Linked DNA regions of Homo sapiens. The protein of the gene in region 7 purifies or fractionates together with the protein of the main gene of each other region. This does not show direct contact. Each region holds a gene or a part of one and is shown on either strand. Other genes may lie near its edges.

Region 1 (3,500 bases), on a different chromosome or scaffold from region 7:
AAACACAAAAATTAGTGTGGTGGTGCACACCTGTGGTCCCAGCTACTTGGGAGGCCGAGGCACGAGAATGGCTTGAACACGGGAGGTGGAGGTTGCAGTGAGCTGAGATCATGCCACTGCACTCCAGCCTGGGCAACAGAGGGAGACGTTGTCTCAAAAAAAAAAAAAAAAAAGTCTAATCTTCATCTTGCCTAATTATCACCTCAAAAAAAAAAAAACCTGACAACCTCGTTTATCATCTATGAGCTAGCCCAGCTATTTTCTAAGTTTCAGATTCATATATATAACTGCTAAAAGACATTTCCTCTTGATGTTCCACAGTTTCCTCAAACTCAACATGTCCAAAAGGGAACTCATCATTACACAAATCTCTCCTCTTCCTTGTTCTCTATCTTCATACTGTCATCACCATCTACCCAGTTGTCTAAACCAAAAGACTTAAGATACATTCCTGACTCCCTTTTCTCCGTTACTAATTTCTAAATACCTCTCAAGTTCATCACTACTTTCCAAATCCACTGTCATTATCTTGTTCAGACTACCATCATCTGTAAGTCTCCCAACCCTACTGTAAGTCTCCCAACTATTATGCCTGTCTAAGCTTTTACTACTCTCCAATCCATTTCCTAAACAACAGTGATCTGAGACATAAGACTTACCTAACCACTTAAAATACTAGTGGTTCACCACAATCCTTAGAATACAAAATTTTTAATATTGCTTACGCAAAGCCTTACATGACCTAGCCCTTAATTTTTCCCCAGATTTTTCTCCTGCTTCTCCCCATCAATTCTCTAGTCACATGGACCTGAAGTTTTAAAACATAATAGGCATTCTTTAACTTCTGGACCATCACAGATGTTGCTCCATCTGTCTACAACATTCCTTCCATAATTCATTGAGGAGAGACAGCACAGAGTGAGTTAAAAGCACAAGTCTAGAGCCACTTCTTGGGTTTAAATCCTGCCTCCACCATTTACTATCTGTGTGATTTTGGGCAAGTTACTTGCCCTTTGTAAAATGAAGATAATAATAGTACCAACCTCATAGGCCTATAGGAAGAAAAGAATGAATTCACATTTGTGAAGTAATTAATGCTGTGACTACCACAGAAAAAGTATCCTCTGACTGTTAGATTATATTGTTATTTTTATTCTAATCTCAGGATAAAACATGTCTTCCTCTGGGGAAGCCAACAATACTCTACCAGCACTAGAAACCTCTCCATAAAACCTCTATACTTCCCTGACCATAGCATTTATTATGCTCTGTTGTAGTTGCATTTTAACAGATTTGTAGCCCTCGAACAGGACAAATAGACACATAAATGGTCAAAGCAAGTCAAGTTAAACAGACGATATTAACCATGATAGACTACTTTTGCTAATTTTATAATTTTGACCTAAAGTTTGTCATTTTTCAGATGATATTTTCAGTTTTTGCTTTAAATTTGCTTTCCAAATTTAATAGCCTATAATGGCCCACAGACTTCGTCAAATAAAAGAAGCCACCAGCTATCAAAATAAAATTCAGGCATACACTCTGGGAAGGTGGGTGTTGGAGTTGGGATGTCTATGGCTAAAGAGATCAGAAACATAACTCATGAAACTCTCCTATATAAAAGAGTCTCCTATTTAGCATTCTTTTTATGAGAATAATCAGCACATCCCAAAAGTACAACAATAAATGATGTTCATTACAAAAGGCAAGATCCCAAAAGAAATTAAAGTTAATATCAAATATTAATTGATACCTATCTTATGTTTACATATTTATCATTTGTTGTAAGACAGAATGGTATCGATACCATTAACAAAAAATTTCTTTCAGAAGGAAAGACATACTCCATTTAAGAGAGTACTTTAACAAACTAATTTTTTAAAAAACGAACTACTGAAAAGCAAGCTTTAAATGTTACTAGACATATTTCAGTATTTCATTAAAAATAACAAAGCTGCGTAGCTTTTTCTAAAAACACAAAAGTAATTTAGCTTTAAAAAAATGCACGTTACCATAGAAATTATTTTGCTAGCAATAAAAAAGAAAGGTCATTGATCCTCCACAAATAAGAGGAAAATGGATGTATTTTCCTTTTTTAAACCATTCAAGACAAAAAACAGAAAACTCAGATGTGAACCACTGGAAAGCTAGCTTCCCTGGTAAGAAAGACTTCGGATTCTAGAGATTAGCATGACAAGGAAGCAAATAAAGTCCTACCTCCAATAATTAAAGTTAATTAAGGCCTTTCAAAGTCCAAAAATAGAAACAGGGAAAAACTTTTTTCATTTTAATTCATGTCACTATTACAAAGTGCTCAAAGTAAATATATTTTGGCAATTCTAGAAGTTAGAGAAAATAAGATTTAGTTGAGATGATTAATAACACCTGAGATTTAGTATGAAAAAAGTTACCTGTACCTTCTCTATGTGGACTTCTTTAATTTCAAGTTGCTCTGTCTCTTTCAAAAGGTTTATTCTGGCATCTTCTAATGCTTTTATTTCTTCTTTTAATTCTGATGCCCGATTAAAATCCTGTAAGGTAATGCAATTTTCCAAAGCTTCTTTGGCTTCGATAAGCTTAACTTTTATTTCAGCCATCTAAGGGAAGATATAAATTGTTTCAACACTGAACAAAAACTGTTAATATGAATATCTGTAGCAACTCAGGAGTATTATTTAATATCTCAACTGCCCAGAATTTAATGAGTCAGGCATATGCAAACTTGTAGTTTTCCTGACACAGAGATCTGCATATCTCTGAGACTGACATATGTGGTAACATTTTAAATATTCTTATAGTTTAACAATTAAACAATAATTTGATTATGTGAGAAACATTTCAGAACTGCACAGCAAGAGGAAAGAATAGACTTGCCCAGCTACATTACACTCAAGCACTTCTTTCATTTAAAAGAGACTTACCTTGAGTTCTTTCTTTCTTACATCAGCTGGATCGTTATTAACACCAACAGTAACAATGGGCGCCCGAATCTCTGAGATAATTTCTGTAACCTGTAAGTTCAGAGTACATGCTTTAATATATGTTTGATATATCAGCAAATAGTATCAAAATTCTATATAAAACTCCAAGTAGTATCCACCATATATTGAATAATGGAGCAAAAACATACTGGTAGAAATAGCACACATTCTGTTTGCTAGACAATTTTAGAAAAAAACAAAACAAAACAATATATCTGACTACAAAATGAAATTATTTGAATGGAAGGGAAATAGGCACACAGACAGTGAAAGTAAATTATCCCTCATATAATGTTTGAAAAACAGAAATATGAATTATGGTGCTTAAGATGAGACACTTAAATTCTCTGCCTAAAATCCTCAACCCTTCTCTTGTTCAGCTCTGTAGGAGTTAAACACAGAAAAATGGAATATCCTTTTATTCTTCCTTTGGGTAGACAATGCATAAATAATAATAGCATAAGGAAGGACTTTCCTTTCAGAACCACTTGTATATTGGAATTGGCTGATCAGGAAAAG
Region 2 (3,500 bases), on a different chromosome or scaffold from region 7:
CAACCTTTGATCTGTTGGTGGACGCCAGTGCCTGGCCAGTTGTTCACTATTTTGACTAGCACCCATGGACTGAAGCTGGGGTGGGTGCTGCCTGGTCTCTGGTGGTACAAGAGAAGGGAGTGAAAGGGTGACAGTAGAGGGGTGGGGATATCCCCCAACCCCACCCCACCATGGCCCTTGTCAGCATCTCCTGCAGCAGGGACTTCATTGCATCTTCACTTGGTCTTCCTGTGCCCTCCTATGGACGCCCCACCCCCACCAGCTCTGTGTGTGTGTGTGTGTGTGTGTGTGTGTGTGTGTGTGTGTGTGTGTCTGAGGGTAAATAACAGGTCTCTAAATCATATCCCTCTCCCCAGCTTTAAGTGGCCAGGGACCCTCTTCCTAGGGGAAGCTCTCACTGGGAACTGTCCTTCTGCTTGGCCCCCCACCCAGGGGTCCAGGGCTTTCCCTGCTGGGGGGCCACCTGGTACCCCACTGTCTCTCCTAAGTTCATCTTCCAGGTCTGTCTGGCCTGACTGCTCTCCTGCCCCACCAGCTCCCAGATGCCAGGCCTTCCCTGCCCCACACACCCATCCCTCAGTCCTCCACCCCCTCCCTAGCGTAGGGGCAGGGGGTGTCATCATACCCGTGCATCATGGGATGACTGCAGGCATACAGGGGCCTGGGGGTTTGGGCCACTGGGCCTCAGGCCAGGAGCCATAGGAATGTGTCTACCTCTGGGCCCGAGAGTAGAGCAGACAGTTCTCACCCAGGCCCACCAGGTGGCAGCAGCAATCCACTGTACAGCAGCCCTGTCCTCTGAACCGGCGCAAGACAGGGCTGCTAGCCGGCCTCAGACACCTCTAATCCCATACAACTCCGGATGGAGTGTAGGCATGGGCATATGTCCAGCCTGGAGCCTGTGGCTGGGTGCCGCAAGACCTGGTCATGGGGCTGGGGACTAGGAGCCCTTGGAGTTCTCTCTTTGCCTCATCTCTGGACCTCACCCACAAAGTGGGGAGAGCAGTATGTCTCCTCTTCTGGAGGTCAATGGAGGAGGCTGTTCTAGGAAGGGGGAAGGGGGCAAAGACCGTATTCCCTAGTAACCTACTGCCATTGCTGCTCCAGTCTGGCCTGAAACTCTTTTGTCTCTCCCCTGCTCTGGGCTGTATTGACTCACCTTATGACCTGTTTTGTGGACTTTGTCACCATCCAGCAGTAGTAAAAGCACAGCCACCCCAACTTGGGGACATTCAAGGAGGCTGTGGGGAAAAGGCCAAGGATAACTGGTTTACTTTTCTCTTTGCAGCTTTTTAATCAGCACTGTGACCAGGGCTGCACTGGGGCATGGAGTGGGGAGAAGACTGGGGAGACAGCCCCTGGGGCTGAGATATCTTCTGAGGCCCTCCTAGTTTTGCAAAAGCATTAACGCACACACCATGCCCTGGGGGCTCAGTCCCAAGTGCTGGAAGAAGAGGTGCTGGTGCTTGGTTGAGTGTGGTCCTTGGCATGGCAACTGGGTCTACTTTCAGGTTCTGCTGATAATGGGATAATGGAATAATGATGGACCCAAGGGGCTAGGGGCTGAATGAAACCAAAAAACTGAGTTTGGCTGGGCACGGTGGCTCATGCCTGTAATCCCAACACTTTGGGAGGCTGAGGCAGGTGGATCACCTGAGGTCAGGAGTTTGAGACCAGCCTGGCCAACAGGGTGAAACCCCATCTCTACTAAAAATACAAAAATTAGCCGGGTGTGATGTTGTGCACTTGTAATCCCAGCTACTTGGGAGGCTGAGGCAGGAGAATCACTTGAGCCCAGGAGGCGGAAGTTGCAGTGAGCTGAGATCGCACCACTGCACTCCAGCCTGGGCAACAGAGCAAGACTCCATCCCAAAAAAAAAAAACTGAGTTTGGGTCTTGGGGAAAGCAGAATTTCAGATTCCCAGAGTGAAATCTAGGAGAAGAGAAGATATGTCTTGGAGGGCCTCAGGAGCTTGGGCCTGAGGAAAGTGTCCCAAGGAGGGGCCGTGTTAGGATCCTGGTGATGAAAATGTATATGTCAGGGTCCTGGCAGGAAAAAGACAGCTACTTGATGATTTAATTGAAGACTTTAACAAAGGGACTGCTGACAGAGCTGGGGGCAGGGTTAAGGAAACCAATAAGGGGGACTGAGGCAGTGAGCAGTACTAGGAAATCGTTATCACTTCTAGGCTGAAGAAGCACAAAAGAAGACAGTGCTCTGTAGGGAGCCCTGGCAGGATCTGTAATCATGGAGGGCCTAAGGCACTACTAGAGCTACAGAGGGGCGAGGGCTGGGGAAGGATTCATACCCCAATCTTTCCTCCTGCCTTCTGAGCCATTACCAATACCTCCCAACTGTCAACCCCAACTAGAAGCCCATGCAGGTGGCAAAGGAGCTCAGGCGATGCACCCTACCAGGAACAGTTTTCCAGGGCACACAGAGGGCAAGAAAGGGTGAGAAACAGGTGGGAGAGGGGAGCAAATGGAGAATGGGCTGCACGGGAGGAACCATTCCCAAAGGGTGTTGAGATTCCAACAGCTGGGGTGGCTAGGAACAGCCCTTGGTGAGTAGAGGGTGCTGGCAGGACTCTTAGGCTCTCCACTCTGCCCTCGCCAGGTCTTCACACGCTATGGAAAGTGCTACACGTTCAACTCGGGCCGAGATGGGCGGCCGCGGCTGAAGACCATGAAGGGTGGGACGGGCAATGGGCTGGAAATCATGCTGGACATCCAGCAGGACGAGTACCTGCCTGTGTGGGGGGAGACTGGTACGTCACCCACTTCAGGGGCCCCTCTGCATGGCTCTAGGCCCCAGCCTCTGCCAGGGGATTCCTGGGCTTCACTGTGAGACCTGGGCAGGGCCCGGGCTTTCCCCTCTCCCTCCAGCATCTCACCATCTCTATCACTGACTCTACCTGACTTCCACACTCACATCTCTCTGGCTCCCACTTCCTGGTTCAGTTACTCTCCAAGGTAACCAGCCATCCTCTTCCATCAACGCCGCCGCCACTCTATAAATAACTCCCTCTCTTCTCGGGCTGCCTGCCTGTCTGGTCTCGGGGGGCCTTGGGGCAGAGAGAGATGGGGGAAAAGGGAAAAAGGGAGTGGGAGAAATGGAGAGCATCTGAAACAGTGACACTCTGGGAGAAAGTATTTGAAACATCAAGATGCAGAGCAGAAGCCAGGTAAGAAAAGAAGTGTGTAGGATACAGGGGTCATCGGAGCAGCTCAGAGCTGGTAAACCCAGAAGGAGGCTAGGGGGTGGGCTAGGACCCTATAGACTTCCCCCACCCCAGCCCCAGTGCACCCTATGCTTATTTCCAGGAGAGGTAGGATGCCCCCAGGTCTGAGGGGTGTTAGGGAGTCAGGAGCCCTCCCAACCCACACACTCCTCATTCCCCTAGACGAGACGTCCTTCGAAGCAGGCATCAAAGTGCAGATCCATAGTCAGGATGAACCTCCTTTCATCGACCAGCTGGGCTTTGGCGTGGCCCCAGGCT
Region 3 (3,284 bases), on a different chromosome or scaffold from region 7:
ACAACACAAGGCTTGTACGTGTAAAGCATCAATTTTAATAAAAAGGCCATTTTCCTGTTTACAAATGGCACTTTAACATTAAATTATCAAAGTTTATTAATATTATTACATACAGACTAGTTTTGGAGAAGATAAAGTTTGATATGTGTAACAAAAGTTAGAAATAATGTTCGCTGTATGAGTTTTAACCCAACTGCTTTATAAGGCTGTTTCTATTAGATCAGTGTTTGGTGATACTAATCTTGAGGTGGAGAACATTAGCAGCAATAAGAATTTAAGTGTAATATAAATAGCAGACTTGGTTTATAAATTAAATTTCTTTTGTAGCATGAGTTTTCACTCCTTTCTTCCCCTCTCATTTAAAAAATCAGGGTGCGTCTTTTGGGAGCTTTAGAACACAAGGATGTTAGAAATGTCTTAGTTCAAGGACATATTTTTCTGAATACCTCCCTTACTGAAGCATTCTGCATGGCGATCGTGGAAGCAGCCAGTTGTGGTTTACAGGTAAAAAGCTTTGAGGGCATTCATGGTTGGGATTTCTGTGTATTTTGAAAAATAATGAGACACATTCCATAATAATGTTTTAACTGGTTTTGTTGATCTTCCTGAGGTATGATTATGGTGGAGTATGTGTTCTTTCTTTCTTTTTAAGGTTGTAAGTACCAGAGTTGGTGGAATTCCTGAGGTGCTTCCAGAAAACCTTATTATTTTATGTGAGCCTTCAGTAAAATCTTTGTGTGAAGGATTGGAAAAGGCTATTTTCCAACTGAAGTCAGGGACATTGCCAGCTCCAGAAAACATCCATAACATAGTAAAGACTTTCTACACCTGGAGGAATGTTGCAGAAAGAACTGAAAAGGTATGTCACATGCTGAGAAAAGATTGTGTCTGAACTCTTACTTGATGTTTCACGTACACATTTGCTTTTTCTTACATAGATGTTTACCATTTTTGTTCTATTGCTTAAGTTGATGAAATCTCTTCCAGGTGAAAAGAAACAGATTTTGGTACACACACCGGGCTAAGTGTCTGGTCAAATTATTGCGTTTGACATTTGAAAATAGCAGTAATACAGTCTAGCCCCCTCATTAAACTGGGCATAAAGAAGTTACAAAATTTTCTAAAAGTCACAATGAGTAGAGACAAGACGAGTATTAAATCTACTCTTAGATATTTTCTTGAAGCTGTTGATAATTCTAAAGCAAACATCTCTATTAGGAAATGCATGGTTTTGCTGATTGCAGCAACTTTATAACTTGTGAATATTTAATTCAGGCTACTTCCTAAACCTCTTGTAGCCCTTTTGCTAACTACTGTGATTTTCTCCAGGAAAAGGATTTTTGCATCTTTGGGCTGATTGAGAACATAGTAAGTTAGAATTCAAAATGTACGTGACAAACGTGGGAAAAATCACAAATAAAAAGCAGCAACAGAGAATTTCCAAAAGGACAGGTATAGGAAATAGATTAACACCCTTAGGTAGGAGATTACAGTTGTGGGAAATGCTTCCTGAATTTGAATTAGGGACTGCTTTCATTCTCAGTTTCATCCTTTACGTCCTTTTCATGATGTTCTCTGCCTCATGCCTCTTATTACCATGTAACAAGCTGAACAGAAACAACTCAGCTTCTTAGTATGTAGAAATTGTGAACCAGAAAGATAACCAGGTGGAACATGGAGAAGGTAGTAGTTTAGAGTAATGCTACCAACGTGATATTCAGTGGAGCAATGAGTTTTTAGCCTAGAGTAGATAGCAAGTTGGAGCTGAGGAGAATAGCTCTTTACTGTAAGGCTTTCTTACTTGGTTTGAATGATGAATTCCAGTATATAAGATGAACTCATATGTGAATGGAAGTTCTAAAAACTTATCTCTAAAAATTGTCTTATACATTTTCCATTGAAACATGAGATGTTTGCGACAGTCAAACATTTTTGACTGAAGCATTTTGAGACATTCTGACCTTCTACAAGTCTTGTACTATCTCTCCCATATGAAACATGGAAAGTTGGAGTCTAGTGCTTACCTGTTGGGAGTACATGTCAGAGTCCCCGGGCAGCCTTTTCAGACTCTCTCTACTCCATCTTGATGTCCCCCTGCCTCCCCAACCACTCCCTAGATTCCAGTGTTATCCTTTAGGAGCAGAGATAGAATTGGGGGTATAATTGGCAGGGATATTTGGTCAGACAGGTTATTTTGATGATACCATCCTGATCTCCACTCCCTTTGAGAACCATGGCACTGTTAAGTTGTGACTTGACCTTCTTCATTGACATCGTATAAACCCCAGAAGCCTGAGCCACTGTAGGTAATAAGTTAACAGGGAAAGAACTGTGGTGACGGTTTGTCAGCATATAGTAAAGGGGCTAATTGGGATTTTTTTGGTAACCACATTTTTCTTTTGGTTAAAGTAATAGTACAGCATCTGTATTTTTTTTAATTCTATGGTGATTTATAATACACTTTTAGAAAAAAGTAAATCCTTGCCTATAATGGATTGTCATCGCTAACATTCTCTTCATAATAGTAAATTGTTATTTTATCACTTAAAACTATAAGTAGATTAATTGACCTGAAATAAAGCTGGACAAAAAAGTCAGTTTGTAGTTACTCTTTTAACCCTATGACATTTTAATTCATTTCAACTCCTCCTTCTTAGTTTAACTGTGCTATTTAGGAAATCGATCATGAAATTAATTTGGAGTTCATGCTGTAAACATACTTCTTCAATTGCAATTCACCAGTCTCAGCATAATTCTCAACATAATTCTGATTAAAATGTTTGTATTCAGAATGTCCTCAGGGTAAAAGAGCTCGATGAAAACATGCCGTACCTTTCAAGGGCTGTTGACCTGTACAACATGCACTGCATGTTATAACTTCCTTGAGTTCAAAAGGAGACGGTTTAAAGGTCTAATATATGAGACTAAGCACAAGTAATACTCAAATTACAAAATATGAATGTTGGCCCATTTGATGTGTTCTGAACAAGTATGTTTAAAGATCTTCGTTTTTTGATATTTTAGAGCTTAGTACTTAGCAGTGTTTTAAAAAGCAAGCCACCTACTTGCTCAGCAAAAAACGTTATTTCATTTGCCAGCATTTGACCTATACTATCTACTGAAATTTCCCCCATCTCTTTATCTTCTTTTATTTGAAATCCATGAAATGCTTCTGCATGTCCTCACCATCCATGCTCAGCAACATGTACAGCCTCATGTGGCTGTTGAAAGAGGAGGCTCTGTGTTCCCAGAAGTATGCTAGATTGTAGCTCTCTGCTTGTGGT
Region 4 (3,500 bases), on a different chromosome or scaffold from region 7:
ATATGACTATAATGTGCTGTGGGGAAGACCTTCTTGTATTGTATCTGTTTGGAGATCTCTAAGTTACCTGTATCCGGGTGTCTACATCTCTCACTAGACTTGGGAAGTTTTCATTGTTGAATAACTTTGAATGCAAATGGATTAAACTTTCCACTGAAAAGATATGGACTAGTAATAGATAAAAAATCATAACCCAAGTATATGCTGGGTACAAGAAACCCATCTAACATATAAAAACACATATAAGACTGAAAGCAAAGGGATGGAGAAAGATAGTCCATGCAAATGGAAACCAAAAGTCACTATACTTATATCAAATAAAACAGTTTGAGTCAAAAACAGTATAAAGAGACAATGAAGGTCATTATATAATGATAATAGATAAATTCTAGCAAGAGGATATAACAATTCTAAACATATATACACCCAACAACAGACCACTCAGATATATTAATATAAATAAAGTGTTATCAGATCTAAAAGGAGAAACAGACGCCAATACAACAACATTTGGGGACTTCAACACCGCCTGCCAGCATCTGACAGATAATCTAGACAGAAAATTAACAAAGAAACATTGAATTTAAACTATACGTTAGACCAAATGGACCTAACAAACATTCACAGAACATTTTATACAACAGTTACAGAATACAAATTCTCATCAGCACATAGACATTCTCTAGGAATGACCATGTTAGAACACAAAATAAGATTCAACAAATTTTTTAAAAATCGAAGTCATATCAAGTACTTCCTCAGACCACAATGGAATAAAACTAGAAGTCAACAACATGAGGAACTTTTGAAACTGTAAAAATAAATGATTAAACAACATGCTCCTAAATGACTACGGGGGCAAAGAATAAATTAAGGAAGAAATCAAAAAATTTCCCTCAACAAATAAAAATAAAAACACAACACACTGAAACCCATGAGATACAGCAAAAGCAGTGCTAAGATGGAAGCTTATATCAACAAGCACCTACACCAAAAAATCATTACGATTTCAAATAAACAACTTAATGATGTACCTCAAGGAACTAGAAAAGCAAAAACAAGCCAAACCCCAAATTGGTAAAAGGAAAGTAATAATAAAGATCAGAGCAGAACTAGACAAATTGGGACTTAAAAAACAATACAAAGGATGGATGAAACAAAAAGTTTTGTTTTTTGAAAAGATAAAATTGATAAAGCACTTGCTAGACTAACCAAGAAAAAAGAGGAAATACTCCAATAAAAAATCAGAAATGGAAAAGGAAACATTACAATTGATACCACAGAAATACATAAGATCATGAGAAGCTATTATGAACAACTATACACCAACAAACTGGAAAACCTAGAGGAAATGGATAAACTGCTACACATATACAAGCTACCAAGATTGAAATGGGAAGAAATGGAAAACCTGGACAGACCAGTAACAAAAAAAGTTGAGGCAGTAATTAAAAAACTCCCAACAAAGAAAAGTCCAGGGCCAGATGGCTTCACTGCCGAATTCTACCAAACTTTCAAAACAGACCTAACACCAATTCTCTTCAAACTCTTCCAAAACATTAAACAGGAGGGAATTCTGCCTAACTCATTCTATGAGGTCAGCATTATCTTCACACCAAAAGCAAACAAGGCTCAACAAAAAAGAAAACTACATACTATTATTCCTGATGAGCACAGATACAAAAACTCTCAACAAAATACTAGCAAACCAAGGGCCAGACATGATGGCTTATGCCTGTAATCCCAGCACTTTGGGAGGCCAATGCAGGAGGATGGATTGAAGCCAGGAGTTTAAGCCCAGCCTGGGCAACATAATGAGACCCTCGTCTCTACAAAAAATTTAAACAATAGCTAGGTGTGGTGGTACACACCTGAAGTCCTAGTACTCGGGAGCTGAGGCAGAAGAATCACCTGAGCCCAGAAGTTGAAGGCTGCAGTGATTTATGATTGCATAACCGCACTCCCTCCTGGGCAACAGAGCAAGACCCTGTCTCCTAAAAATTGTGTGTGTGCGCGCGTGTGTGTCTGTAGAAGCAAACCAAATCTAACAACTCATAAAAAAAACACACACACATCATGATCAAAGGGGATTTATTCCAGGAATGCATCCCAGGGATACAAGGATGGTTCAACATATGCAAATCAACAACTGTGATACATCACCTGAAGAGAATGAAGGACAATAACCATATGATCATCTCAATAGATGCAGAAAAAACATTTGAGAAAATTTAGCATCCCCTCATGATAAAACTTGCAACAAACTAGGGATAGAAAAAATATGCTTCACATAATAAGGGCTTATATGATCTATATAATAATAATATAGCTATCATTATTTTGAAATGGGGAAAAGCTCAAAGCCTTTCCTCTATGAACAGAAACAAGACAAGGATGCCACTTTCACCACTTCTATTCAACATCATATTGGAAGTCCTAGCCAGAGCAACCAGGAAAGAGAAAGAATAAAAGGTACCCAAACTGGAAAAGAGGAAGGTCAAATTATCCCTCTTTGCTGATGATATGATCTTAGATCTAGATAAACCTAAAGATTTCACACAAAAACTCTTAGATCTGATAAATAAATTCAATAAAGTTGCAGGATACAAAATCGACATACAAAAATCAGTACCATTTCTATACACCAACAATGAACTTGCTGAAAAAGACACCAAGAAGGCAATCCCATTTACAATAGCTATAAAAAAAACAAAAACAAACAAAAAACAACTAGGAATATATTTAACCAAGGAGGTGAAAGTTTGCTACAAGGAAAACTACAAAGCACTGTAGAAAAAAATTAAAGATGACATAAACGAATGGAAAAACATTCCATGCTTATGGATTGGAAGAATTAATATTAAAATGACCATACTGCCCAAAGCAATACACAGATTCAATGCAATCCCTATCAAAATACCAATGTGATTTTTCATAGAATTAGAAAAGACAATCCTAAAATTCATATAGAACCAAAAAATATCCTGAATAGCTACAGCAATCCTAAGCAAAAAGAACAAAGCTGAAGGCATCACACTACCTGACTTCAAAATATATTACAAGGCAATAGTAACCGAAAAAACATGGTACCGGTATAAAAACAAATGCACAGATCAATGAATGCAACAGATTAGATAATCCACAAAAAAAATCCACACATTTACAGCCAACTGATTGTCAACAAAGGCACCAAGAACATACACTGAGGAAAGGATATCCTCTTCAAATATATGGTACTTAGACAATTGGATATCTGTATGCAGAAGAATAAAACTGGACCCCTGTCCCTCACCATATACAAAAATCAACGCAAGGTCAACTAAAGACTTAAACATAAGACCCAAAACCCCTCATTTCAAGAAGAAAACATTGGGGAAATATTTGAAGACATTGGTCTAGGCAAAGATTTTATGGCTAGGACCTCAAAAGCACAGCAACAACAACAAAAAAATAGACAAATGGGACTATATTAAACTAAAAGACTTCCGTGCAGCAAAGGA
Region 5 (3,500 bases), on a different chromosome or scaffold from region 7:
AATTGTTAACCGGAGTTATTTTTACAGAGGGGGATGCTTTAGGTTTTATTTTATACCTTTCACATTCAAATTTTAATTTGATGTGTATATATTGCCTTTTTTATTCTTTTAAAAATATCAACAGGGATTGCCTGGGCAGTGAGGTTATGGGCCATTTTGTATTTTATACAATTTATTTTTAAAAACTCAACACTTATAATAATAAAGTTTCTGAAAAAGAGACAGTACCTTCATATCTGATTCTCCTGCGGTGCGTGTGCCCTGACAGAAGAAGTTGTATTTGCCTTCCCATACTCCTGTTACTAACTAAAAAAGAAGAAAGAGCCAGTCACCAACAGCATCTGAGCCATGTAAAGTCCTCATTGAACTTTATTAGTTGCAGAATCTGTGATAATTTACCTTGGGCTGTGCTGAGCCAAGTTTGCTCTGAGAAAAAACAATTGTAGGCAAGTGTAAACAAAAGGAAAGCTTTAATGACTTGAGTCTCAATTTCCTAAGGGGTGGGCTTAAAAGTCACTCCCAGGCTGCTGCCCTCAGAGACCTTCCTTTACCACGCTGCTTCTCTGCAGAACCCTCAGCCCGTCACCCCCTTGGTCCTAGCACAAGTGCCCAGACCAAGCCAATCACAGGCTCCCTGCTCTGCCCCACAGAAGCCTCTGGCTGCTTTCCCTAAGCCAGTGCTCCTCAAACTTGAGTGTGCAGCACCAGAATTACCTGAGGGGTGAGTTAGTAAAACATGGGTCCCTGGGGGTGTTTCTGTTCCAGTAGGTCTGGGGGCCTAGAATTTGTATGTCTAACAAGGTCCAGGTGATACTGATGCTGCTGATGTGGAAACCATACTTTGAGAACCACTGCTGTAGGCTCAGGGATAATTTAGTCCAACTTTATCTTCATTATTTCCTGTTGTTGTATGTACAATCCTCCGGATCCATGAATTAGGCTTCACAAACTGAAGGCTTCACAAGTGCCCATGCCTCAGAATCACTTGCAGCACAGTAGGCACTATGCTGTCACAGAGAGGACCCCAGAACTGGGGTACAGGCTCTACATCACAGCCCAGCAGTTATCACGGGCCCCTCCCCTCAATGGGCCCGTGATAACTGCAGGGCTGTGATGTAGAGTCTGCACCCCAATTCTTGTGTTCCCTGTCCTTGAACACAAGAGTTTAGCTTGGCGAGCAACACAGATTCCCCCCCAGGGAACAAGAGGTGATTACAAGGATCTGAAGACACCTTGTGATATTTCCACCTGGTCTGACATCAGAAATAAATGGCAAAAAATGGGTGTAGCCGCTGCACTCACGCTGGGTATCCTGCCTTCTATCTGATTTTTCTTTGGTTATCTTTCTTCTTGCCATTTTCCTTCTGCTTTGTCACCTTCTACACATAAAAAAGCACTGAGAGTTAACAGGCTTTTCATGGCCAAAGAAGAGCACAAGGATTTAGCATGGGAGAAGCATCAGTTCATGATGAAGAGCCATGGAATTAGGAGGAAGGCTTGAGTGCCAGGCCCAGCACCTGGGGCAAGCCAGCTAATTCCTGTGGGCTTTTGTTGTTTTTACTATAAAATGATGAGGTTGGACTAAATTATCTCTAAAGGGTCTGTTCCAAATTTCTGTAGCTTCATGTTAACAGACTTTAAAAACAGACCACACAACAAACTATTCTATACTATCTTTGAAAGATCAGTACCCACATGGTAATTCATTAGAAGGTGTATTAACTTTTCTGTCTTCTACTACTCTCTAAAGTCATGGCCAGTCAAGCAGGATCCATGCAGGCTGATCAGAAGTCCTAAGAAGCAAGACACAAAGTCTGAATCCAAAGTGCGTTGGAGGTCGGGGGAGGAAGCTGGCATGCACTCTTGAGACCTGGGGTGGAGAGGGAAGGGCCAGCTTAGCACAGTGCTCTTTTTGCTGCCCTTCTTTCTACCCCAGGAGGGAACCAAGGAACTACCTCCTGTGGCTTGAGGGTACAGAAAGGAAACTGGTGCTTCTTGATGAAATGTTTGTGGGACAACCGCGAATAAGAAAAATAAGGACAACGCAGTAAGGTTTTCATGAAGATAAATTCGTGCAATGTAAAAGATCCTCTTTTTTAAAACAGCAGCCTCTCTTGGCAAAATTAAAAACGTACTAACATATGACTGTCTTCATCAGAGATATTTTTGGAAATGTTACCATTTTATGAATCTTAAATCTGGAACCTACCATCACTGTTTTTTCCAGCGACTATTTTGGTTTATGGTGTCCAGAGACATCCTGGGTTGGTTTTGCTTTTGTCTGTTTTAAAATAGGATGGCTGGTGTGTGTGCACTTGTGGAGGTGTGGATGACTGCATTCATGAATGTCTATCTTGGCAGGGGTGGGGAAAATCAAGGTAGCTCTCTGGAGAAGAGGAGGACAAATCCTCTCTTGTAATTCTGCAGGCGCCTCAATCCCAAAGATGAGAACGGGTTGAAGGGGTCTTGTTAACTCAGCAGAAGGGACTCTTGGACACAGGCTTCCTTTTTAAGAAGGGATCCAGGTGGGATTGCCTTGACTCTTTAAACTAGTTAACCTAACGTTCCATTTGCCCTCTCCCCACCCATAAATGGGGCAGGGGAATCCATGTATAAAACACCTGTTGTCTTTGGAGTTTAGTTAAAGAACTCAAACCTCAGTATTGGGTGGTGAACTTTTTTCACTCCTGAAGCATAAACCAGGTATACACACAAGAAGCTGCTCACTCGGTGCCACTCCACTTGACCTAGGCCCACCATTCCTCTTCCACCTGTTGAGGTTCCCTGTAGGAGCTCTGTCATGCTTCAATGCAACACTCCCTCCACTGCTACTCACACCTACCACACTTCCACTGGGGCCGCTGTGCCCCTCAAACCACTGAATTCCATATTTCCATATTTAAAACCCTCCAGTGAGTCATCATTGCCTTCAGAATGAAACCCTGAATCCTAGGTGCAGTGTCCAGGTATTTAGTCTTCCACAACGTGGTCCCAAGCTTATCTTTCACTTCTCCCCTACGTGCACACAAATTGGACCTCTTCCCATTCTCCAAACATGCCCTTCCTTAACCGCTACACAGTAGCCAAGGGGAAAGAGCATGGGTTTGGGCATTAGCCCATTAAACCCTAGCTTTTTCACGTTTTGCTAGGTGACCTTAGCTAAGGTATTCCAACATTTTAAACTTCAGTTTTCTCAGTCCTCAAATGGGATAAACATAAGGCTCCCACCATGAAGTACATAATGCCTGTCTCACCCAATGTGGTTCATAGGATTAAACATAAGTGTTGGCAGTGACCACTGTTTTATTCTTTTCAACTAGAATGCCCTCTGCACCTATGTACCCCCATCTCCAGCTCTCAAAATCCTATCTATCCTTCAAAGTTCAGTTAAAATTCTATTTTCTTCATGATTACTCCCTTGAGCACTAGAGCCTGAGGTCTATTCTCCTTCCTCTACCCTCACCTTGCAGTGACCTGTAGCTGTTTGCTCACATGCTCCC
Region 6 (3,500 bases), on a different chromosome or scaffold from region 7:
GTGGGCACCTTCCAGGCCGGGAGGAGGCGCAGGGGCATGGCCTCCACCTCCCAGGCTGACGCCAGGGATCCCATGTCCACGGGCATGAAGCCCATGGCGAGCGCCATCTCCGAGACAGCACGCTTGGCTTCTGGCTGGTCACCGCAGATGGGCACCTGCGGGAGAAAAGTGGGGCAGTCAGACGGCGTCACAGGCCACAGGAGTGGGCAGGGCCTCACTGAGCAGCTGAGGAAACCGAGGGCCAGAGGGGCAGGGACTTGTTCAAGTGAGCTGCCAGTCAATGGTACAGGTGGGAGCCAATGGGGTTCTAGCTCCCAGGCTAGGGGTCTTTTCTCTGCTGCCCAGGCCTCCCAGCCTCTGGCCCACCTGCCAAGCCAGGCCAACTACTCAAGGAGGGAAGCTGCAAACAGTAAGCATCTTGCCCAGCTCGTGGACATCAGCAACCACAAGCAAAATGCTCATCCAGGTAGTCCCCATGGGCCCCCGACATGGCTGTCTCCAAGGCCGTGGCCTGCCCTGGGAGCCGCTCAGCAAAAGAGTTTTGCGTATGGTGCAGAATGGGCAGCTGTGGCTGCAGCTCCATCCCTCAGTTCAGAATCACCCCCCTTGATGATGTCCCTCGGCTCAGTAGAGCCCTCAGCCAGCACATAAGGCCTTCTACAAGCCAGCTCCAGCCTGCCCTCTCCGCCTTGAAGCCCGCTGCTCTGACCCACGAGGTCCCCCTGCAGGCACATTGCAGTCCTCAGATCCCCAAGCACCCCGTGGGCCTTGTTGACACTGCATTGGTCAGTTTAGTCTCCAAACACAGACTGAACACCTACTCTATGCTGAGCTTTACATATATGATCTCTCAGCCTTGCCATGAGCCCGCAGGTAGGTACTATAGTCTTCATTTTTCAGGTGAGAAAACTGAGGTCTAGGAGCATTGTTTCTTATCTCTGTGCCTTTTCAGATTGTTCCCTCAGACTGGAATGCACTCCCTGCTCCCTGAGCCTGACAGCATGAGGTGGGCCCAGGTCAAAGCCCTCCTCCAAGTCTTTTCCAGCCAGCTTGCTTGCTCCGTTCCCTCCAGGCCCTGCATCCAACACTCTCCACTGTTCCTCCTGGTCCATACCTGGGAGTCCCATGATGCAGCCTGCATTTAAGGTGCTGTAGTCAGGTATGGCTGGGCACCTTTAAACTGTCCTACAGAGCCTGGCACCTGGGCTCGACTCACTGGTGGAAGTTCTCACACATGGAGTCTGGCATTCTTTCGCCAAGAAAATGCATTAAAAACCAAGGTGGCATTAAAAACCACCTTGTCTTGGTAAGAGCTCCTCGTGGCAAGAAACGTATGCAGCTCTAGCTGTTCCGTGGAGCCATTATCTAGCCCCAGAAAAACCTGCTGTTGACTTTTCTGAGAAATCAGTTCTTGGAAGCCCTTAGAATAAATACGATAAAATTTGAGACATGCCTGCCTTCCTCAGGGCCGGGTACATAAGTGTGTTACTTTCCTCCTTCTGAGTCCAATTCTAAAAGCCAAGTCTCTCTCCTTCTTGGCTCCAAATAGCAAAAAGCCATCAACCTTTTCCTCCTTGCCCTCTAGGAAACCCTGTTACCATAGCAGAAAGAACATGGGTTTCAGATCCATAGGAACTGGGTTCAAATCCCAACTTACCAGCTATGGAATTTTCAGTAAGATCATTAATGTCTTTGAGCCACAATTTCCTGTTCTGTAAAATGGAATTTTGCAGTGATGCAGGATTAGTTATGATAACATATCAAAAAGAGCATGCTGGCAGCACTCGATGAAAATTAGCCATTTATATTTATTGTTACGATGGGTATTATTCCCCCAGAACCTACCTGCCTGTTACCATCCCTTGGGCCAGCCTGCAGGGTCCAGGCAGAGATGACATTGAAGGCCTTGACCACTGTGCAAGTGGGGAAGAGGGAGGCCAGGTACTCAGCATTGGACTCACGATGCTGAAGGTGCTCTTGCTCTGTAGGGTTGCTCACATCCACCAGGATCTTGCCCGCCAGCTGGTCACTGAGACTGCACAGTGAAGAGTAGTGCTCCCGGAACACAGCCACAAAGATGACCTCCGGGGAGCTCACTGCCTCCTCTTGGAAAGTCACTTGGGCCGCTGAGGGAAACAGCCTGGCTGTGCGTTTGGGGTTGCGGCTCCCCACCACCACTTTGAAGCCAGAGCCCACCAGGCGTGTGGCCAGGGAGCGGGCAAAGTCCCCGCTACCCAGGATGCCCACTTTGGGGGCCTCATCGGGGACCTTGGCAAGGCTACTATCGCTGTCCACCAGGTGGAGGCTGATCAGTGGCTTGTCCATCTCTTCTGGCATTTTGGTGGCTGCAAGAGAAGTCAGGAACCTGGTCAGTGGAGGGCTCCTGGACTGCCCCTTCTGCCACCTCCCTCCTCTTATACATCGTAACTACACGGCAGTCAGACATTCACCCAGCAGGTGTTCACCGAGTGCTACCACGTGTCAGCACCAGGGGAACAAGCTGAACACAACACAGCCCCTTCCCTGGGGAGAGCACAGACTCAGGAAGAGCAGGGATGACTTCTGCCCTCCACCCTTTGTCCCTCCTGCTGAATGATTTCCTCGGGAAAAACTGGCAGAGTGAGAGTGCTGGGAAAGGGAACTCTGGAATTTCCATGACCAATGTGATGCAGTGCCATACTTCTTTTCAAAAGGATTAGGCAATGGACAGTGTCACTAGCCAGGAGTGACCATCTAACCCCAACCTCACCATCGCTGGGTGTTTGATGACCAGGAAGGGTGAGCATGTCCCTATGCTTGTCTACATTTTGCATCTTGGAGCAGTTCTTCTTATGCTCTCCCTGAAGCATGGTGAACAGCTTGAGGGCAGGACCTCATCTCATCTGACCTTGGACCTCACTGTGTATCATAGCCTGGCACGGAGGCAGTGCTCAGTGTTTGCTGAATGAATGAATGAATGAACACCAAACCTTGATCTCTGAGGGCAGGACTGAGAGACAAGTGAATGGGCCCCTAAGATAGAGTGGGTGCCCTGTGATCTTCTTTGCTGAGCCCAAGATATGAGTGGATGTGGAGGAAACCCTGAACTCGGGCCATCGGTCTACAGTAAACTTGGATGGAAAAATTATTATATATTAATTGTCACCAACTTCTAACTAAAATTTGCTATTTCCTTTAAGTATGAAGGTAGGCAACATAATTTTTCATTAATACTGACCAAGATCATATCATAAATTTACCTGTAAATAATTTATCCTAATACCATTTAAATTGAGCACAAATTTAAAACCATGCTAGCCAGGTGCAGTGGCTCACACCTGTAATCTTAGCACTTCAGGAGGTCAAGGCAGGAGAATCGCTTGAGGTCAGGAGTTCAAGACCAGCCTGGGCCACACAGGGAGGTCCCATCTCTAAAAAAATAAAAAAAAAATTAGCCAGGCACAGTGGCACACGCCTGTCGTCCCAGCTACTCAGGACATTGAGGCAGGAGGATCGCTTGA
Region 7 (4,246 bases):
CTCCCGGCACAGCCCCGAGCACACCCGCTGTCTCCCCTCCTTTCCGCCCGTCTGTCCGATCCTCTCACAGCTGGCTGGGCCATACTGCTCTGTGAAACTGTGCCCGGTCAGCCCCGGAGTGGGTGACCCAGGACCCGCTGGCTGTGTCCTTCCAGGGCACAGGTCCCAGCCTCTCCTGTTTCGTCGACACTGGCTACCTGTGTGGGCTTGTCTGTTTCTGGGCTCTGAGCCCTATCCCCACAGCACTGACTCCCCCACCCACCTGAACCCCCAGCCCAGCCCCCGAAGCCCCACGGACCCAGCCTCCTGCTGCGCACCCCAGCTGGAGTTCAGGGAGCATTTTAAATTCACTTTTTGTGTTTTTTTTTTGAGATGAAGTCTTGCTCTGTCACCCAGGCTGGAGTGCAGTGGTGTGATCTCAGCTCACTGAAACCTCTGCCTCCCAGGTTCAAGTAATTCTCCTGCCTGGGGACACGACACGTAGGGGACGCCTGAGCCCTGCGCCTTTGGGCCTCAGTATCTGTGAAATGGGCCTGTGAAAGGGGTGGACACTCAGAGGCCAGGGCGGGCCTTGGTGCTTGGTCTCCCTCCACACAGCCCACTCCTCTCCAATTCACACCCCACCAGCCGGCCAGGACCCCGGGGCCCCCGTGTTGACCGCCTGCCTGGCTGCTGCAGCTCCTGCCCTCTGGTGGCCAAATCCCAACGTGCCTCCGTGGGGCCGGTTCCCGGCTCCAGTTCACCGGGGCCTCGCGGGGTCCTGCAAGGCGGGGTCCTGGGGGCTCACTTCACCCAAGAACCAGCTGCTCCTCCCTCAGGGTGGGCTCTGCCTGTGGGCTCTGAAGACCTGGGAAGGCTGAGCAGGTGCTCGGAGCCACCACTGCTTCCATGGGTGTCCTGCCCTTTAACCCACGCCCTCACCCCTGAGAGCAAGGCTGCTGTTACCCCTGTCTCCTACTCTTGGAAACTGAGGTAGAGAAGACAGGTCCAGCCCCCTGGCTCATGGGAGATGGAGCCAGGATGTACGCACAGGACACAGGTCCAGAGACTCCAGAGCTGCGTGTAGACCAGCACCACTGCCCTGCCAGGCCCGCCTGCCCGCTCTGTACCCAGTGGGAGCTGGGAGCCTCAGCCCGACCTGTGAGGCCACCCCTCAGGGGCGGCTCTGAGAGGCCGCTTTGGGGCTCAGTGTCCGTCCACCGCAGCCTACGTCCCCCTGAAGCTGCAAGCAGGGACTGAGGGACCCTCCCCGTCTGCTCCTGGCCTCCGACTGGAGATTTGTCAAAGCTGACCTTTTGTCGACAAGGAGACTGAGGCCCAGCGGGAGGTATTTTAGAGACACTTCCACGTTTGGAGGCCCTAGATGCCCCCTTCCACCCATGACACCCACTGAGCTTCTCCATGGGGTCAGACGCCAATCAGCAAGAATTCGCCAAGAGATGTGGAGGCTACTAGACCCTCACCATGAAAATAGCTTGGCTGTGTAAGAGCCATTGGCCGAAGTAGGTTCTGCCCTTCGCTAGCCCAGCCGCAGCTCCAGACTCCAACTTCCGCCTGTGCCCAAGGCTTTCTCTCTAGCATGTCCTGTGATAACCCTGAAGCTCCCCGCACCCTACCCGGGGAGAAGATTTTTCTTTTATTTTTTTGGATACGGAGTCTCGCTCTGTCACTCAGGCTGGAGTGCAGTGGCACGATCTCAGCTCACCGCAACCTCCGCCTCCCGGGTTCACGCCATTCTCCTGCTTCAGCCTCCCGAGTAGCTGGGACTACAGGCGCCCGCCACCACGCCCGGCTAATTTTTTGTATTTTTTATTAGAGACGGGGTTTCACCGTGTTAGCCAGGATGGTCTCGATCTCCTGACCTCATGATCTGCCCACCTCGGCCTCCCACAGTGTGGGGATTACAGGCGTGAGCCACCGCGCCCGGCCACAGCTTTGATTTTCATTCAGCAAATCCTTTCCACCTGGAAGGAAATTGTGGGGCCGGACAACAGGCCCTGCTCTTAGCTGGGCGGGAAGGCAGATGACTGCGCAGAGAATTCCAGAACAGAGAGTAAGTCCGGGGACTCGGCGCTCCTCACACAGCCTCTGAGAACTCTTCCTGGAGGAAGGGGTACGTGAGCTGAGTCCCAAGGGTGCCTAGGACCGCACTGGGCGCCACAAGGAAGGAACAGCCGGCACAGTGGACAAGCGGGGTTGTGGGGCCTCTGGAGGGCCTGGCGGGTCCAGACCTCATCCTAGGGACCACGGGGAGGGCCAGTGGGAGGACAGCGGCGGGTCTGAGAGCAGCTCTCCCACCTCCTTGAGTCCCAGGAAGCCGCCGCGTCCCCTGCCCCACACACCTGGCCCCAGTTTCCTAGAATCCCAGGAAGCAGCCGCGTCCCCTGCCCCACACACCTGGCCCCAGTTTCCTAGAATCCCAGGAAGCAGCCGCGTCCCCTGCCCCACACACCTGGTGCCAGCCTCCTAGAATCCCAGGAAGCTGCCTCGTCCCCTGCCCCACACACCTGGTCCCAGCCTCCTAGAATCCCAGGAAGCCGCCCCGTCCCCTGCCGCACACACCTGGCCTCAGCCTCCTAGAATCCCAGGAAGCCGCCGCGTCCCCTGCCCCGCACGCCTGGTCCCAGCTTCCACCCACAGTGGTGCCCTGGGGTCCCCGGGCCTGCACCACCCCAGGTGGGCACCCCAGTACCCTGGCGCACCGACTCCCCAGCCCACTCACCCTGGCCTCTGCGATGCAGACTTGCTCCCTGGCAGGGCCCGGCCTAGGCAGCTCCCACGCCAGGCTCACAGCTGGGCTGGCCCTACCCGGCCACCTGCTGCCCCTCCCAGGCCCCTCCTCAGGAAGGTGAAACTGCCCCATTTCCTGCAGGAACCCTGTGTTCTCTGAAAGTAGAAAGAGGAGGGAAATGGAGGAGGGGAGGGGAAGGTTGGAGAGAAAGGGCCAGGGGTCGGAAGGAAGGGCTGCAGGAGGGAGAGAGGAGGAGGGAGAGAGGAGGAGGGAACTTTGCTCCAGGAGATGGCTCTGCGTCCTGACCTCCCCCAAGGCTAGAAACTTCTCCAGCAGCTTCCTCATTTCCTGAGAGTGCCCTGAGATGTCCTGGCAGTGTTTTTCCCTCATGTGTGGATGTGCCACCTCCCAGCCAGGGGGGTGCGTGCACAGCTGTGCTGTCCAGCTCTGTGATGTCAGATCTTAGAGAATGCTACACATCAGTACACATAAGCCATCTGTGTCCTTTTTCTCATGCATTTTCGTTGTGAAAATACAACATGTATACCAACAAGACATATAGGTGTTGGGAGGGAAACTGAGGCAGGGCTTGCATGATGTCCTTTGGAATGTGTCTAGACTTGCTGGCTCCTTCCTTCTAGCCCTCCTAGGCCCCTATTCCCATTATCTCAAGTAGCAGAACATGCTCCATATAAATGCTAAACCGGCACAGCTGTAATCATGTGCTTAATGCAACGTGGTCTTTTGACCTCCATATTCTCACCATCTGTTTCTTTGTTGCATTACCAATAAATACCGTGGGCTCCCAGAGCTCGGGCTTTTGCAGCCTCCACAATAGCGATGGCCCCCTGGTGTGCCACCTTTCTCTCTCTGTGTTTTTCTGAATCCTTTGACTCCGCCGGACTTTGTCACCCCCACGACCTGGGGTTGGGTCTGATCACCCCAACATATAGGTACTGTACCTTTACACAGAAACTACACAGGTGTTCGTAGCAGGACAATTTAGTATAGCCAAAATGTGGGAAGAGTGCAGATGCCCAACACGGGGACAGATAAATGTGTCTCTTCACGCAGTGGAGTATTACTCAGCCATGAAGAAGAGTGACGTGCTGACACGTGCTATAACATGAAGAACCTCAGAAACATTTCGCTAAGTGGCAGAAGCCAGATAGTCGGGTGTGGTGGTGCGCACCTGTGGTCTCTGCTGTGAGGCTGAGGCAGGAGGAGCGCCTGAGCCTGGGAGACTGAGGTTACAGTGAGCTGCGATCACGCCATTGCACTTCAGCCTGGGCCGCAGAGTGGGAGCCTGTCTCAGAAAAGAAAGAAAGAAGCTAGACTCAAAAGACCACATGTCGTGTGATTCCACTTATATGAAATGTCCAGAATAAGTGACTCCATAGACACAGAAGGTGGATTCATGGTTGTTGAGGCTGTGAAGGAAAGTGGGGAGTGGGTGCTAATGGGAATGGGTTTCTATTTGGGGCAATGACTTTTTTTTTTTTTTTTTTGAGACAG

Evidence for each region.
Region 1: the proteins of DPEP1 (region 7) and NCAPG purify together in Homo sapiens (affinity purification with mass spectrometry; 2 studies listed by BioGRID and IntAct, with this or other methods). This does not show direct contact.
Region 2: the proteins of DPEP1 (region 7) and ASIC1 purify together in Homo sapiens (affinity purification with mass spectrometry; 2 studies listed by BioGRID and IntAct, with this or other methods). This does not show direct contact.
Region 3: the proteins of DPEP1 (region 7) and PIGA purify together in Homo sapiens (affinity purification with mass spectrometry; 2 studies listed by BioGRID and IntAct, with this or other methods). This does not show direct contact.
Region 4: the proteins of DPEP1 (region 7) and STEAP2 purify together in Homo sapiens (affinity purification with mass spectrometry; 2 studies listed by BioGRID and IntAct, with this or other methods). This does not show direct contact.
Region 5: the proteins of DPEP1 (region 7) and ELOVL5 purify together in Homo sapiens (affinity purification with mass spectrometry; 2 studies listed by BioGRID and IntAct, with this or other methods). This does not show direct contact.
Region 6: the proteins of DPEP1 (region 7) and STEAP3 purify together in Homo sapiens (affinity purification with mass spectrometry; 2 studies listed by BioGRID and IntAct, with this or other methods). This does not show direct contact.

The regions. Positions count from the first base shown.
Region 1 is NC_000004.12:17,824,479-17,827,978, reverse strand, and holds part of NCAPG (condensin complex subunit 3), read right to left. Parts: intron 3,012-3,500; coding exon 2,922-3,011; intron 2,598-2,921; coding exon 2,418-2,597; coding exon of another isoform or gene 2,412-2,417; intron 1-2,411. UniProt on the Homo sapiens protein: Regulatory subunit of the condensin complex, a complex required for conversion of interphase chromatin into mitotic-like condense chromosomes.
Region 2 is NC_000012.12:50,074,596-50,078,095, forward strand, and holds part of ASIC1 (acid-sensing ion channel 1), read left to right. Parts: intron 1-2,372; coding exon of another isoform or gene 2,373-2,465; intron 2,466-2,617; coding exon 2,618-2,768; intron 2,769-3,404; coding exon 3,405-3,500. UniProt on the Homo sapiens protein: Forms voltage-independent, pH-gated trimeric sodium channels that act as postsynaptic excitatory receptors in the nervous system, playing a crucial role in regulating synaptic plasticity, learning, and memory.
Region 3 is NC_000023.11:15,322,240-15,325,523, reverse strand, and holds part of PIGA (phosphatidylinositol N-acetylglucosaminyltransferase subunit A), read left to right. Parts: intron 1-371; coding exon 372-504; intron 505-652; coding exon 653-859; intron 860-3,284. UniProt on the Homo sapiens protein: Catalytic subunit of the glycosylphosphatidylinositol-N-acetylglucosaminyltransferase (GPI-GnT) complex that catalyzes the transfer of N-acetylglucosamine from UDP-N-acetylglucosamine to phosphatidylinositol and participates in the first step of GPI biosynthesis.
Region 4 is NC_000007.14:90,218,240-90,221,739, reverse strand, and holds part of STEAP2 (metalloreductase STEAP2), read right to left. Parts: intron 1-3,500. UniProt on the Homo sapiens protein: Integral membrane protein that functions as a NADPH-dependent ferric-chelate reductase, using NADPH from one side of the membrane to reduce a Fe(3+) chelate that is bound on the other side of the membrane.
Region 5 is NC_000006.12:53,275,951-53,279,450, forward strand, and holds part of ELOVL5 (very long chain fatty acid elongase 5), read right to left. Parts: intron 1,122-3,500; exon of another isoform or gene 1,043-1,121; intron 307-1,042; coding exon 229-306; intron 1-228. UniProt on the Homo sapiens protein: Catalyzes the first and rate-limiting reaction of the four reactions that constitute the long-chain fatty acids elongation cycle.
Region 6 is NC_000002.12:119,244,334-119,247,833, reverse strand, and holds part of STEAP3 (metalloreductase STEAP3), read right to left. Parts: intron 3,413-3,500; exon of another isoform or gene 2,346-3,412; coding exon 1,846-2,345; exon of another isoform or gene 953-1,845; intron 156-952; coding exon 1-155.
Region 7 is NC_000016.10:89,612,196-89,616,441, reverse strand, and holds the start of DPEP1 (dipeptidase 1 isoform a precursor), read right to left. Parts: upstream 2,801-4,246; 5' UTR 2,723-2,800; intron 1-2,722. UniProt on the Homo sapiens protein: Hydrolyzes a wide range of dipeptides including the conversion of leukotriene D4 to leukotriene E4. Hydrolyzes cystinyl-bis-glycine (cys-bis-gly) formed during glutathione degradation.